Linked DNA regions of Homo sapiens. The protein of the gene in region 2 interacts with the protein of the main gene of each other region in a pairwise test. Each region holds a gene or a part of one and is shown on either strand. Other genes may lie near its edges.

What was found. The genes of interacting proteins can lie anywhere in the genome.
Region 1: the proteins of DSCAML1 (region 2) and MAGI3 interact in a two-hybrid assay, tested with the Homo sapiens proteins (one study listed by BioGRID and IntAct).

What each region holds. Positions count from the first base shown.
Region 1 is NC_000001.11:113,645,494-113,652,521, forward strand, and holds part of MAGI3 (membrane-associated guanylate kinase, WW and PDZ domain-containing protein 3), read left to right. Parts: intron 1-992; coding exon 993-1,149; intron 1,150-3,743; coding exon 3,744-3,835; intron 3,836-5,520; coding exon 5,521-5,713; intron 5,714-7,028.
Region 2 is NC_000011.10:117,787,216-117,794,243, forward strand, and holds part of DSCAML1 (cell adhesion molecule DSCAML1 isoform 1 precursor), read right to left. Parts: intron 1-7,028. UniProt on the Homo sapiens protein: Cell adhesion molecule that plays a role in neuronal self-avoidance. Promotes repulsion between specific neuronal processes of either the same cell or the same subtype of cells.

The DNA of each region.
Region 1 (7,028 bases), on a different chromosome or scaffold from region 2:
GTCGCAGTGGCCCTAATGCTTTATAATTGATGGAAGGGTCTGATGAACTTTAACCGCCTCTGACAGAATGCTAAGATGTATGGGGAAGGGTAGGAGACTACTGTTAGCTTCTCTGCCTTCTCATTGGGTCTGGGTGATTGAAGGGTCCCCTCTAGCACGACACTTTGTAGTGGCTGACCCCTGATTACTCCCTGACAGACTGGTGCCCCTGCATTCTAGTCATTGTTAATGATCACAAACATCCATAATCTCCCTCTCCTAACAATAATCCAGGAAAACGAGCTGGTCTCAAAACCATATTTCTTAGGCCATTTATTGGATTTCATTGTTAACATTTTATTAAATAAGTCATTTTGCTTGGCTGTTATCTTGGGAAAGTTCTAGCTGAATAGGAAAAATATCAAAATATGCTACTATGCTTTCCCTTATCTAATTGTCTTGCATGGTACATTTTCTCTTAATATATGTGAATTGGCCAGACAGGGTTTTCACAGTGCCATCTTTATAACCTAAATTAGAGTTAACCTCTCCTGTTTTCTTAGAAAGAGTATTATCTTAAACATCTTCCTTAGAAATTAAACTCAGTGAATGGGAGGTGGGCCGTGCTAAGAATTTTATGAAGATATTCTCTGAATCTCCCTCTTACTTTACTTAGAAGTGCTGCCTTGTATTGTATTTCTATTTATCTTCATCTCAAAGTCAATTTGTGTCTTGGTGGTGGAGAAAAGGGCAAAATTGTTTAAACATAGGACTAACTAAGGCTCTTCAGTTGATATTACTATAAACTTTTTTCTAATTTAAGTTAAATATGTTTCAACCAAATACACATTGCTATGAAAATGAATTCCTGTAACTGTAAATCTGCTGTGTCTTTGATCCTGCCACCTATACAACTATAATCAGTTGACATATCCATTTCAGATATCAGTTTTATGAATTAATCAACCATCTGCTTTTTAAAAAATACTAAGTAAGGCTCTTTTCCATTTCAGAAAACAGATAAAAAGGAAAATGCAGGAAGTTTGGAGGCCATAAATGAGCCTATTCCTCAGCCTATGCCTTTTCCACCGAGCATTATCAGGTCAGGATCCCCAAAATTGGATCCTTCTGAGGTCTACCTGAAATCTAAGACTTTATATGAAGATAAACGTAAGTAGTTGTGGAATATTTCAGGAGAGCATATAACAAGATAAATTTGGATTTATTTTAGACTAGGACCTTCCCATCTTTCAGAAGCATATTGAAAAGTTATTCCTTCATTACCATTTTAATAGAACTCTGGACTTCTTCCATGTATATTCGACATTCACACATTCATTTTTTTCAAAATCATGCTTTAAGTGCTAGTTATCTACCAGATGCCATACTAGGTAACCAGAATACAGAGATAAATAGGTTACATAGGACCTGCACCCAAAAATATTATTAGAACTAAATGGAAAAAGACAAATATGTAATCAAATAGTATACAAATAAGTACACATAATAAGCCTAACAGGTACAGTGATAGAAAGATGAAATGGATAAATTGGGATCCAAAGAAGGAATATTCAGTTTTATCAGTGTGGGCAGTAGGAAGTGTCAGGAAAAGCTTCATACTGGAAGCAAAGCTTTAACTAAGTCATCAGGGATGAAAAAGTGTCTTTGAGGAAGATAAAAGGGAAAGATAGAAGGAATAGCACATGCACACTGGCCTTGCATGACTTGGGCTCTGCAAGTAGTTCACTTTCGCTGGGTGCAATTGGCAAGGAAAGTCACAGAGGAGAGCAGGAACAGATTGAGGAAGGCCAATGATGCCCTTCCAAGGGAGCTGGAGTTGGTCATATAAATAACAGAGAACCACAGAATGCCTTTAACTATAAGGAAGGCATAGTTTTGTGTTTTAGAAAGGTTTTTCTGGCAGGAGTATGAAGGATGAATCAGAGGTGTATGCAATTTGAGGGAGGGTGTGCAATTTGAAGAAGAAACTAAAGAGTTGACTCCTTACAGGAGTCCAGCTGAGAGATAAAAAGAGAGACTGCATAAGGCAGAAATTCATGCATGTTCCTACTAATTCACTTACTAATGATAAATCTTTTCCAAAGTAAAATTGCAGATTTGAGTAGGTATAATTTTTTAAAATTTATTTGTTCTTAGAAAGAGATGTAAATCTACCTTGGAAAAGATATGTACAAGTGGAATATATGTATAGTTGACTTAATGCTTATTTAACTAGTTGCAGAAGTACATCTTGATAATCCCAAGCCATATTCAGAAAGATGAAAACCAGTTGTACGCCCAGCAAAGCAATAATTTAAATTAGCATAACAATGTAGAATCCCTTTCTTCATACTTTCCATTCATAGCCTGATACATTATTAATACTGGTATAAACTCTGCAGTCCCATCAGGCTTCACCCATAAAATAAGTGAGTTGAACTGATGACTCTTTTTTTTTTTTTCCCCTGAGACAGAGTCTTGCTCTGTCACCCGGAGCTGGAGTGCAGTGGCACAATCTCAGCTCACTGAAACCTCTGCCTCCTAGGTTCAAGCAATTCTCCTGCCTCAGCCTCCTGAGTAGCTGGCACTACAGGCGTATGCCACCATGACTGGCTAAGTTTTGCATTTTTAGTAGAGACGGGGTTTCACCATGTTAGTCAAGCTGGTCTCAAACTCCTGACCTCGTGATCCGCCCACCTCGGCCTCCCAAAGTGGACTCTTTTAATCTCTAAAGTTCTACAATTTTAATAGGAAGTATATATCAAAAGATACTGCTTCTATAGAATATTATCAGGAATTTACTAATCTCACTTTTTACATAGTTCCCTGACATGTTTATTTCTTCTCTCTTTACAGTAAATACTTCTTACCTATAAATAACATTAATATTTTCCCAAAGGAAAAATTTTAGTCATGAAATAGATTTTTGTGACTTAATATTCTTTTTTTTTTTTTTTGAGATGGAGTCTTGCTCTGTTGCCCAGGCTGGAATGCAGTGGCACGATCTCAGTTCACTGCAACCTCTGCCTCCCAGGTTCAAGCAATCCTCCTGCTTAATATTCTAAGGAATACAACCTACCCTTTGAGGGTAGGACAGTATGAGTTAGGAGATTAGACCCTGGAAATCAACCTGGATTTAAATCTTAGCTTCACCACTTGCTATGTGACAATGGCCAACTTACTTACACCCTCAGTTTTCCCACCTAGAAAATGGGGCTAATAATAAATGTTAGCTCTTAATTATTTTCCTTTAAAATGCTATCATTTTGCAAAACTAGGCTAGGTAAGTAGTTCATATGGAATACTTTTCTGAGAGAAAGGTATTAGCTTGAGAGCAGGAATAAGGTATTTTACAGGCACTCTATACAGCAGTGCCTGTACAGATTTAATGTACCTTACCCAAGTGTTAACTTAGGTCATTTGCACCTGTCAAATATCAAACTCAAGTTTGATCATTCTGAATTCAACATTGTTATATTGATTGGACAGCATTAGAAGTTAATGGCAGTGTAATACTGAGTATATGGAAGTGAGAGTAAATGTTTCTAAACAGTCTTCATACAGTTTTGTTTAGAGCTCAAAACGAGGATTTATAGTTGAATTGTGTGTGTGTGTTACACTCTTGTGCAAATTTTCCATATTAAAAAGTTCTGAGATTATAGTTTATTGAGTTACTCTATAATATCCTACTAAATACTGAACTTTGTTTTGTTTTAATCCTTTTAAAATAAATCATAGTATTTATATTTTCTGATTTTCCTCAGCACCAAACACCAAAGATTTGGATGTTTTTCTTCGAAAACAAGAGTCAGGGTTTGGCTTCAGGGTGCTAGGAGGAGATGGACCTGACCAGTCTGTAAGTGTCACTTCTTTGGAACATGGCTGTTTCCTGTTCAAACGTTTTGAGTGGTGATTTGGTGGATTATGGTGTGTTTTAAGTTTTTTTTTCTCTGACAGTTTCATTAATATGAAGAATAACTGCATTTCCATTATTATCATAGTCCCTCAGTTATTGTGGTGTAGCTGAGGCTAAAAACTGTGGGTAAAAACTGAATATGTCAGCTGCAAATTAGACAGTGATTAATTTATTTACTTCTCTGTGTGAATAACTACATAAAGCTTATTTTAAGTTTATATTTTCCTTTGCCCTCATTAAACAGAGTCTAAGACATTTTCCTTCTCTAAGAAGCCTATAATCCCATGTCCTCTTTCCCACTATTACTCTATCTTCTGGATGCTCCATAAATGGTTGGCATGAGCCTGTGCATATTGTTTCACCTCGTCTTATTAATAGGTTGGCATTTTCATGCTCAGTACTTTGCATGTCATTTCATCTGTTACCTTTGAAACTAGAGGAATATAAAATAATTAATATTTTTGTCCAGAGGCATAAGGGTTATATTTGCAAAGCATTTGAAGTCTAGGATTTTGTTTACACATGATTCTCACATAAACTTGTTTTAGAGAACAAATGTAGTGGGTTTTGTTTCTAAGTTTTGCTCTTGGTTTGAATAACAAAGAAGTAATGTGTTCTGTAGCATTTTTAAGAACATATTTGCATTTTATTTTATATAATATCAATATATTATATATCAAAAAATATGGTTGGAAGTTAGGTGAAGAACAATAATCTTTAAAAATTACAGGCTTCTTATTTCTGAATAGAACATTTGATTTATGTAGTATAAATTTGTTCTAATTGGTCATATTGGTTACAGTTACAACAGTCATTGGAGACACATAAAGCTTAAGGCAGGTTGCCCTATGTAGAACAAATACTAGATACTTTAATTGTTCTTGGTATTTGTATTTTTGTTTTATTGCTTCCTATTTTGTTGATACTCATAATGTTCACTTAGACATTTTAAGAATTTGTCTCAAACAACTTAGAAGAAACCTTTCTTTTCTCTTAAATGTCAGATTTTAGCAGCTCTGAAACTAGCCTAAACATTCAGGATTGCCTAATTACAGGATTCTAATGCTGGTGAGCAAAATGAACCAGATTTGTTCACCTAGATGCAAGTGAAGCTTCAGGCCACTCTGTTCCCGCTGAGATTTAGAAACAAGAAATGTCTCTGTGCTGTGTATATTGAACTTGTACCGTTAGTCATATGTGATGGGAGTACTGTTGAGAATGATCCCAGTTGCTGTGAACAGTATGTAGAAAATCTTGCCTGATGACATTGAACAGACTTTTAATAGCTACTCTGCAGATTTATATTTTCTGAGTTTAGTGTTTTGTTTCATTGTAATGATAGGGATAATGGTTGTGCTTTTTGAGTTATCGAACAACTTTGTATTTTCTATTTTCTTTGTACACAGCCCTGAGGATCTATAAGGGATTACATAATACAATGTGGTTATTTGAAGTGCCATTTTGGAGAATGGGCACTTTCTCAGATAATACCTTTCTAAAATATAACTGTTTTCATAGTTGAACTGCAAAAATCTGTTGGTTTGCACAATGCTAAGTTAGGAATTCCTTAACTCTTCAGCTAAACTTTACACTGTGGACCAAACTGTACTTTGTTATCTTATCAGATATATATTGGGGCTATTATTCCCCTGGGAGCAGCTGAGAAAGATGGTCGGCTCCGCGCAGCTGATGAACTAATGTGCATTGATGGAATTCCTGTTAAAGGGAAATCACACAAACAAGTCTTGGACCTCATGACAACTGCTGCTCGAAATGGCCATGTGTTACTAACTGTCAGACGGAAGATCTTCTATGGAGGTGTGTGAACTTGTTCCTGCTCTGAAAAGTTAAAAAAGAAACAAAGATACTAGTCTACTTCCTGTGTAGTTTTGCAGGTTATTTTATTACATTCAGTAGTATCTAAGATAACCCATTTGGTGTGATCCAGGGCCTCACTGTGGAAGGCTATGCAAACACAAAAGGATTCAGAAATAATACTACTATAAAAAAATAAATTTTGGGCTTCTATATTAAGATTATTTTCATATATTGATGCATTTTGCAAATGTATTATAGGTGGGAGTATTGATTTAAATCCGGTTTTGTTTTGTTTTGTTGAGTTGAGGTAGAGTCTCACTCTGTCACCCAGGCTAGAGTGCAGTGGTATGAGCTCAGCTCACTGCAACCTCCACCTCTTGGGTTCAAGCGATTCTCCTGCCTCAGCCTCCTGAGTAGCTGGGATTACAGGCACACACCACCACACGGCTAATTTTTGTATTTTTAGTAGAGACGGGGTTTCACCACATTGGCCAGGCTGGTCTCGAACTCTTGACCTCAAGTGATCCACCTGTCTCAGACTCCCAAAGTGCTGGAATTACAGGCGTGAGCCACTGTGCCCAGCCTAAATTTGTTTTGTTTTTTTTTAAATAACAAATACAAAATTATTTAGTCATACCAAGATATCCCACTAGCTGAATATACAAAGATTTTTGGATCCCAGTGAAATCTGAGCTACTAAAGGAAAGTAGGATGTTTCTACTTGAGAAGTTTTAGTATAATTTAACATTTATTGAGTGCTTACTATGTCCTAGATGCATGGATTATTTTATTTAATCTTCACAACACTATGAGGTCATTATCTAGTTCTATGATTACTCAGAGAAAGGTTGAGAAACAAATAACTGGTAAGAGGTAGGGCCTGGATTAAAAGTTGCAGTTTAATTCAGAGATCAGGGTTTAAACCATAGCATTAGGATATGAATATCTCTTATAGTTTCTCGCCAGTAGCTTTATGAATAATTAAATAGAAATTCTTATAAGTGAATTCTTTCCACTTTAAAATTAAAAAAATACAACTCTGTAGCACAAGAATATAAGCCTCATGAAGGTATGAATTTTTATTTGTGTAGTTATCTGCTGTAAGCTCGGCACCTAAAAGAGTGCCTGTCTGGTACAAAGTGGACATTAATAAATGTTGTTAATTGGATGAATATTTACATCACTCTTAAAAATGAGGCACTGTATTTTTTATTGCAACATTCAAAGTAAAGGCCTGCCTCCTTTGGTAAATACCAGGCATTTAGAATGCATATAGATTGTAATGCAGTACTGCCTCAATTTGGTTGTGTTGGAG
Region 2 (7,028 bases):
AATGTCTACCTCAAGGGTTGTTATGGTTGGACGAGTTAATATATATGAAGAGCTTGGGACAGTTTCTGCTTTATGTAAGTGCCTGGCACCACCTAAGTATTTGTGGCTGTTGTTACAAGCATTATCATTATAGCAGGCAAGCAGTAAGTATTTGTGGGAAAAGTGAATCCTTGTGCAACAAATATTTACTGCTCACCTCTGATGATAATAATAATAACCTAAAACCGTGGTTCTCAAACATCAGTATGCATAAGAATCACCTGGAGAGCTTGTTAAAAATGCAGAGCCTTAGATAACAGATTCACCAAGTCTGTCATAGGGCCAGAAATTCTATTTCTGAGACTGGTGTCCTCTGTCTATACTGAGAGTAACAGTCCTTTGGAAAAGTAGATTTGCCATCCTGGACTTCTATACTTCCTTTCCCAACGACAGACAATTGTCATCTGCTTGGCTGACAAGACCCTACCACCACATTAATTAACTTAATTTGGAGATCAAGATAAGAAAACAACAGTGGTAGAATCAATAGCAACAGAGCATTGCAGTAGCCACACAGCTTTTGCTAATTCCCAGGCCTTACGCAGAGTTCTTCATGCAGATGTGAGCTGGAGAGGTTTCTTGGATTGATTTGCAAGGTTGATTACTTCACTGTATTTCCACACAAAGGTTTTCATGGGAGATGTGTTATGTGCCCTCACTCTGATTGTTCTCATCCCAGAGTTGGAAAAATTGGTTCTAGAGAGGATCAACCAGTAGGGTGATCCTCCCACCGGCTCACCCACCAAGTCCATTCAAAACCCAGAGGAGGACCAGCCAGACGGTGTCTTGCTGCTTCACTAAAAACCCTTTATGTTGCATCTTGGAAACTGTCTGAGCCCAGACACTGGCAAGGAGAGGGTTGAGTTTCCCAGACAGCATCAGAGCATGTACCAGGCAGCCTGAGCTGGTATGGTCCTTGGACAAGAGGAAGCAGCGGGCCAAGTCCCATGCTCTCTGCCTGTGATGTCCACCCAATCTGGCACACCTGCTCCACCACTACCTTCCCCATCACAGTGCCATCTTTTGGTTTTTTTGGTTTGTTTTGTTGTTGTTGTTTTGTTTTTGTTTTTGTTGTTGTTGTTGTTGTTTTGAGACGGAGTCTGGCTCTGTCACCCAGGCTGGAGTGCAGTGGCACCATCTTGGCTCACTGCAACCTCCACCTCCCAGGTTTGAGCGATTCTCCTGCCTCAGTCTCCTGAGTAGCTGGGATTACAGGCGTGCACCACCACGCCTGGCTAATTTTTGTATTTTTAGTAGAGATGGGGTTTCGCCATGTTGGCCAAGCTGGTCTCGAACTCCTGACCTCAAGTGATCCGCCTGCCTCGGCCTCCCAAACTGCTGGGATTACAGGCATGAGCCACCATGCCCAGCCCCATCATTTCTTTGTAGCATTTGTTTTGTGCCAGGCATGGTGGGAAGCCTTTTTCTTGCATTATTGCACATGTAATTCTTACAACAGCCCTTGGATGTAGCTACTACTCAAGACTCCATTTTACAGATAAGAAGACAGGCTCTTAGGTCAAATAATTTCTTGGTGTTGCACAGTTCGCAGTGGCAGAGCTGCATTTCACATCTTTATGCCAGGATGTGTGGCTCAGCAGGCACATGACAGGCTAGATTCAGACCATCCCCATGGTGTGAGCACACTGTGGGGGGATTTTCTGACAAAAGAGATCAATTGGGGTATGATAATTCAGAATTACCTGGGAATCTCCCTGTCATTAGACATTCCATCCCTCCCCCAACTAAACGCCAGCAGCTCCCCACCCTAGTCATTGAGATGACCAAAAAACGCTCCCCATTTCCAATCCCCATGCAAAGCACAGCTCAAGTGTCCTCCCTGTGTCCATCAGAAACATGGGTGGTTTTGCTGTTTGTTTTTAAGATTCTTAGCACAAACATGGTTTCTGTGACCAGCAACCAGAAACCTGCGAGGTCCAGTGGAGACGCAGCTATCCTTCAACCTCCAAGGCCCTGTGCCATCAGCTCCAGGAGAAGTTATGAGCAACAGCTGACTGTCGGACAGACTCTTTAATCTTCCAGCCCTTTCTAGACAGGGCCTGTCAAAGGAAGGTCCCTTATGGCCAAAATTTCTTTCCAGGGAGTCAGCTCAGACAGCACAGTTGTCCCCAGAGAATCCTAGATTTAGATTGTTAATGCTTGAGGGACTTAAGAGATTATTTTTTCCAATCTCCTCCATTCACAAGGCCTAGAGAGGTGGAGTCATCTACCCCAGGGACACAGCTCACCAGCATCCCAGCTGGGGCTACAGTGCTGTCTCCAGTGTTCTCTCAGTTCTGGCCACCCTGCTGTCAGAAAACTAGCCATTGTGGAACTCAGGAGCACCATGAAGCACCGAAACGATGTCATTCGAGGGTGTATCAGAGCAACTAGGGATGCTGCGTGTCCAGAGCAGGGGCCTCAGATGGGCAGGACATCTGCCTATCACAGTCGCAGGGCTGTCAAGTGGAAGAGGGCTTTGCCTTGCTCTATGTGGTCCAAGCGGTGACATCAGGACCAGTGAGTAGAAGGTCCAAGACCACAACAGGGTTTGACTCATTCTAAGGATGAGCTCTGTAATAGTCAGAGCTGTGTGGCCAGGAATGGGCTGCCTTGCAAGGAAGGAGTCCCTGTTGCAGGAAGTGCTAGTGAAGACAGAAAAAGACACTGGGTGGGAAAGCTGCAGAGGGAGTCAGCCTCTGATTAGGGGACAGATTCCACAGCCTTAAAGATGCCTTCCAACCCTGCAAGACTTTTACCCAAGGTGATCACCTGAATCTCCCTCTCCCACCCCCAACGCAGGGGTCCTATCCTCTCTCATACCCCACGACTGCGGGAGGGTCACCCTAGTAGCAGGGTGTCCACCAGTCTCGACTCGGCAGAGTTTTCAGAGATTCCAGTGAATACTGTGACCTTAAATGAGGTCACATAAGATGGGACTGTGCCTACTGCTCTTCCCACAAAAGACTGTGGATTCCCTGCAGGGAGAATGTCCCTTTGGGGGAGTTGGTCCAGAGGACTATGGACTACACTTGCATCTAAGAACCTTGGAGGGGAATGGGAGGAGGGAGAAGAGGTAGGCTTCCTCCCACTCCCACTACCACTGGGGCCTCAAGGGATCTGCCAAGTTTGCTCCAGGAAGACTATTGCCAGCCTGGCTGTGCCTCATCAGCTGTTCCCCATGATGCTGAAAAGCAAAGCTAGGAAAATTCTCCATATGTTGGGGCCCACGGAGGGGGAGACAGCCACAAACAGCTGTGAGACCTTCATCGTTCCTGTATGATGAAATGACAGTAATTATGCCTCACATTTCAGCAGAGCATTTATAAGGCTAAAACGGGTTTGCTGTGGTTTTTACATGTGTGTGTTCATATGTTGCCTCATTCTGTATACAAAGCACTGTCACATGATGTACATTTTTATGCCTCTTATTCTTATTTATGCACATATACAGTAACAACTGCTCTGTAGGATAGCCAGGACGGGGGTAATTTTGCCCATTTTACAGATTACGAAATAAAGGCACATGAACCATTAGGCAACTTGCCCAGGTAAGACAGGCTGAGCTTTGTTTTTTAGGTCCATGGATAATGTTCTTTCCAACACACAGACACACATACACACATGCACGTGCAAACACACATGCATCTCTTTAGAATCAGTTTAATGGATATGCAACTAACTAGCATTTGAATAATTGTTGTTAATGAAGATGGTGACCTTGGAAACTGTTAGTGCAAGCATCATGTAGAGACAGGGCACAGGGAGTGGGGCAGGGCAGCTGAACGAATGAGGGGAGTAGCAGCTGGAGTGGCATGGGTGGTCCCCAAGGCTAATGCTGTTCACTCTAAAGCAGCACAGGACAAACATCTGTTTAACAAGGCACACAGGCTGTGGAGCCCACAGCCTCCCCAACATGTAGGATCCCACAGGCCATGGCCTGCCATAGGCAGCACTTGACCTCTGGGTTACATGCTGCTTCCCTGTGACAGACTAGGTCATGGAAGGAAGAGCAGTCCCAAGGTCACAGGCTGCCAAGAGTGTTCTCTATATGCAAAACTGCCTGAAAAATAGAGGTTCATCTCAGCAGGGAGAGACACAGAAATACATCCAGCAACAGTTATGAGGGCTCCCTCGCTTTGTGAGGAGTGCTTACGCAGGCTTTATGGCATGAACTCCAGAATAGTTCTTACTCTGGCCAACCGTGGTAGAGATTTAACAACCAACCCCAGCCTTCCTTTGGCAGATATGAGACCAACCTTTGCCTCACCTCAAATCCAAGTCTGGAGCCAACTTCAGCCCTCTTCATTTCCACTGATGGCCAGGGGAAGGAAGTGTGCTGGGCACCCCAGGGACACTCAGGTGACCACATGGCCTCAGCCATGTGGAGTCCTACATGCTATCCAGCTAGGTGACGGATGGAAGGAGTTGACGTCCCCTGTCCTGGCCACTACTCTGTCTTTCTTATTGTTATAAAGTCTAAGCCAACTGGCTTGGCCAAAAATGTGGCTGATTAATTCAACTGCTTAGGGAAGGATCTGATGATGCATTCTGGAGAGGGGGCAGGGAGAGGAAGGTAGAGGCAATGCAGAGGAAAAAGTAGAGGTCTAATGTTTATTGAGCACTAACTATGTTCTGGCTACTTGATATGCATTATCTTCTTTAATCTCATTTCATAGCTGGAGAAAGTGGGGCTCAGAGAGGCCCAAAGTCACATGGCCAGTAAGTGCAGAGCCAGGATGTGAATGAAAGATTTGCCTTGACTCCAAATTTCTACCACACCAGTGGGTTGCAACCTTTCTTATTTTTCATTCTACTCCAATATATGAAATTGGATAATGAATAAAAGCTCTGGTTGAAGCTCTGCCCTCTGGCCCTCCCCCTCTCTACCTCTGTCCATCCCCTGAGGCTCCACCTCACCCCTTAGGCCTCCATACCACATCTCTTGGAAACCTCTGTGGGCTCTGGTGGGCCAGGCCCCTTCTGGATCAGTGGATATGCAGAAAAATAATCTGGGAAGGCTTTGGAGCTGCACCTGCCATAGTAGTATCCTCTCAGGGCCCTGGAAATGCAGACAAAACCATTCCCGAGGCCACACTCCCACTGCAGCATCCCAGCTGGCTCGCTGGGAGGGGCCACTCAGCTCTCCTGAAGTGCTCACTCCTCAAGCATCACTCCAGGCTCTTGACACGCCCTTCCCTCAGTGACTGTAGTGCCTGTCCTCCCTCTGCCCCGCCATAACCAACCCACATACCTGAAGCTGCCCTAGGGGAGGTGGAATGAGAAGCTGGTGCTATATCTTTCATCTCTCTGAAGCCACGACCACCTCCCAGGCTAGGTGGTGACAAACCAGGAGGGTGAAAGAGCATTCTGCCTCACTTCACACCCCCATGCCATCAGCAACTACCTCACTACCTGCTGATGGCAGCCCTAGGCACCCAGCTCCCTGCATTCTAGGGGTGCACCCACCAGGAATCTAATGCGGGCCCTGGATTTCTATAGCTAGTTTGCCCCTCTCTTCACCCTCTTCTTCCTGCACCATGAGAGGAGCAACCCACATCCCAAGTTTGGTCTACCTTACGGTGTCTTGGCCCATTGCTACCCATCCTACCCCAATATCCCCAGTGCCACTGTCTGTCCTTGGATAGGGGTGGTGGGAGCTCTGGGGCTGCCTTGCCAGATGGTGAAGCCAGTGCTGAGCACTGGAGGCACATATGGAGGCAACAAAATGTAGGAGACAGAAGCATTACCAACAGCAGTCCTTCTCCCAGCTCCTTCCCCACCCCCTTCCATGCAAGGAGGAAGCCAATGACTGGCTGCTACTGAGGTTGAGGTCAAGATGCTACTCACAGAGGGCACAGCTTTTGGCCTGGCTAGGTGAGCATGCAAATCCATATGCAGATTATATGCAAATCTGGGGTGTGCCCTTGGGTTCCTGGCACCCTGCCATCGCTGCTGCCTGTAGCTCACCCTATTCATGCACCTGGGTACCCGCTAGAATCGACTGGGCTGGGAGCTGAGAAAGTGCTTCAGGAACTAGGGGATCTTCTCTTGACTACTTCAGAGGTCCCCCAGAAAACAACTCCTCCAAGATCACGGAGGAGGGAAGAAGCTCGCAGCCTGGAACTCGTATCCCTGCAGAAAAACTCTCTGAGCATCTGCCCTCCCCTCTCTTCATCTACAATTAAATCATCCTTCACCAGCCAGAGCAGGGTACCAAGCAAGTGGCAAGTGGCAAGGATGTGTCTTCTCTAAGACACAGAGAAGGTCAGGAAGGCTTGAGGTCTGCATCCCTCTGTCATAGGCTAACAGTCCATGGGGTGCTCTGGACAGACCTTGACCCTGTGTCTGGGGGCTCCTAGCCAGCCTGTTTGGGGCCTGCTTCCCTACCAAGCTCTCCCTGGGCCAAAGCCCTGTCTGCTTGCTCACATCCTCTCTGATCCTCATCCTAAGAAAACTAAGCCTCTCTGTCCAGTCCCCCGGGATCTGTTCAACTTAAGCGCCGCCTTTGGGTCTACTGCTTACTTGTTTTTTGTTTCTAATTAGCTCCCCCATTCTACTGCAGAAATATATTAAAGGCAGCTGGCTTTGATGCCCAGAAAAACGAAGCGTCGGAAAGGCTTGTCGGGCATCATGGCCCTGCCAATCTCCCTCATGTTATTCTAGCAACCGGGGTCTCTCTGCCACTCAGCCCCTCCCCAGTATTCACTGGCCCTTCGCCTGCCTCCCCTAAGTTGCGTTTGCCATTTCAAGATTTTAAAAACACATTTCCCCATTGCCCCCCCCCCCTTTTTTTAATTAGACACTGAACAGAATGTTGGAGATTTTCTTAATGCCCTGACGAAGGCTTTTAATTTGGTCTTCCCAAGAGAGAAGAACCATGAGTCCCCATCGGAGAAGTTGGGGTGGGAAATGAAAAAATCAATGCAATCCATTATTTTGGCTTTTAGAAAACAGGAATTTTAGTGCCGGGGAAGCTTGTTCTTTTA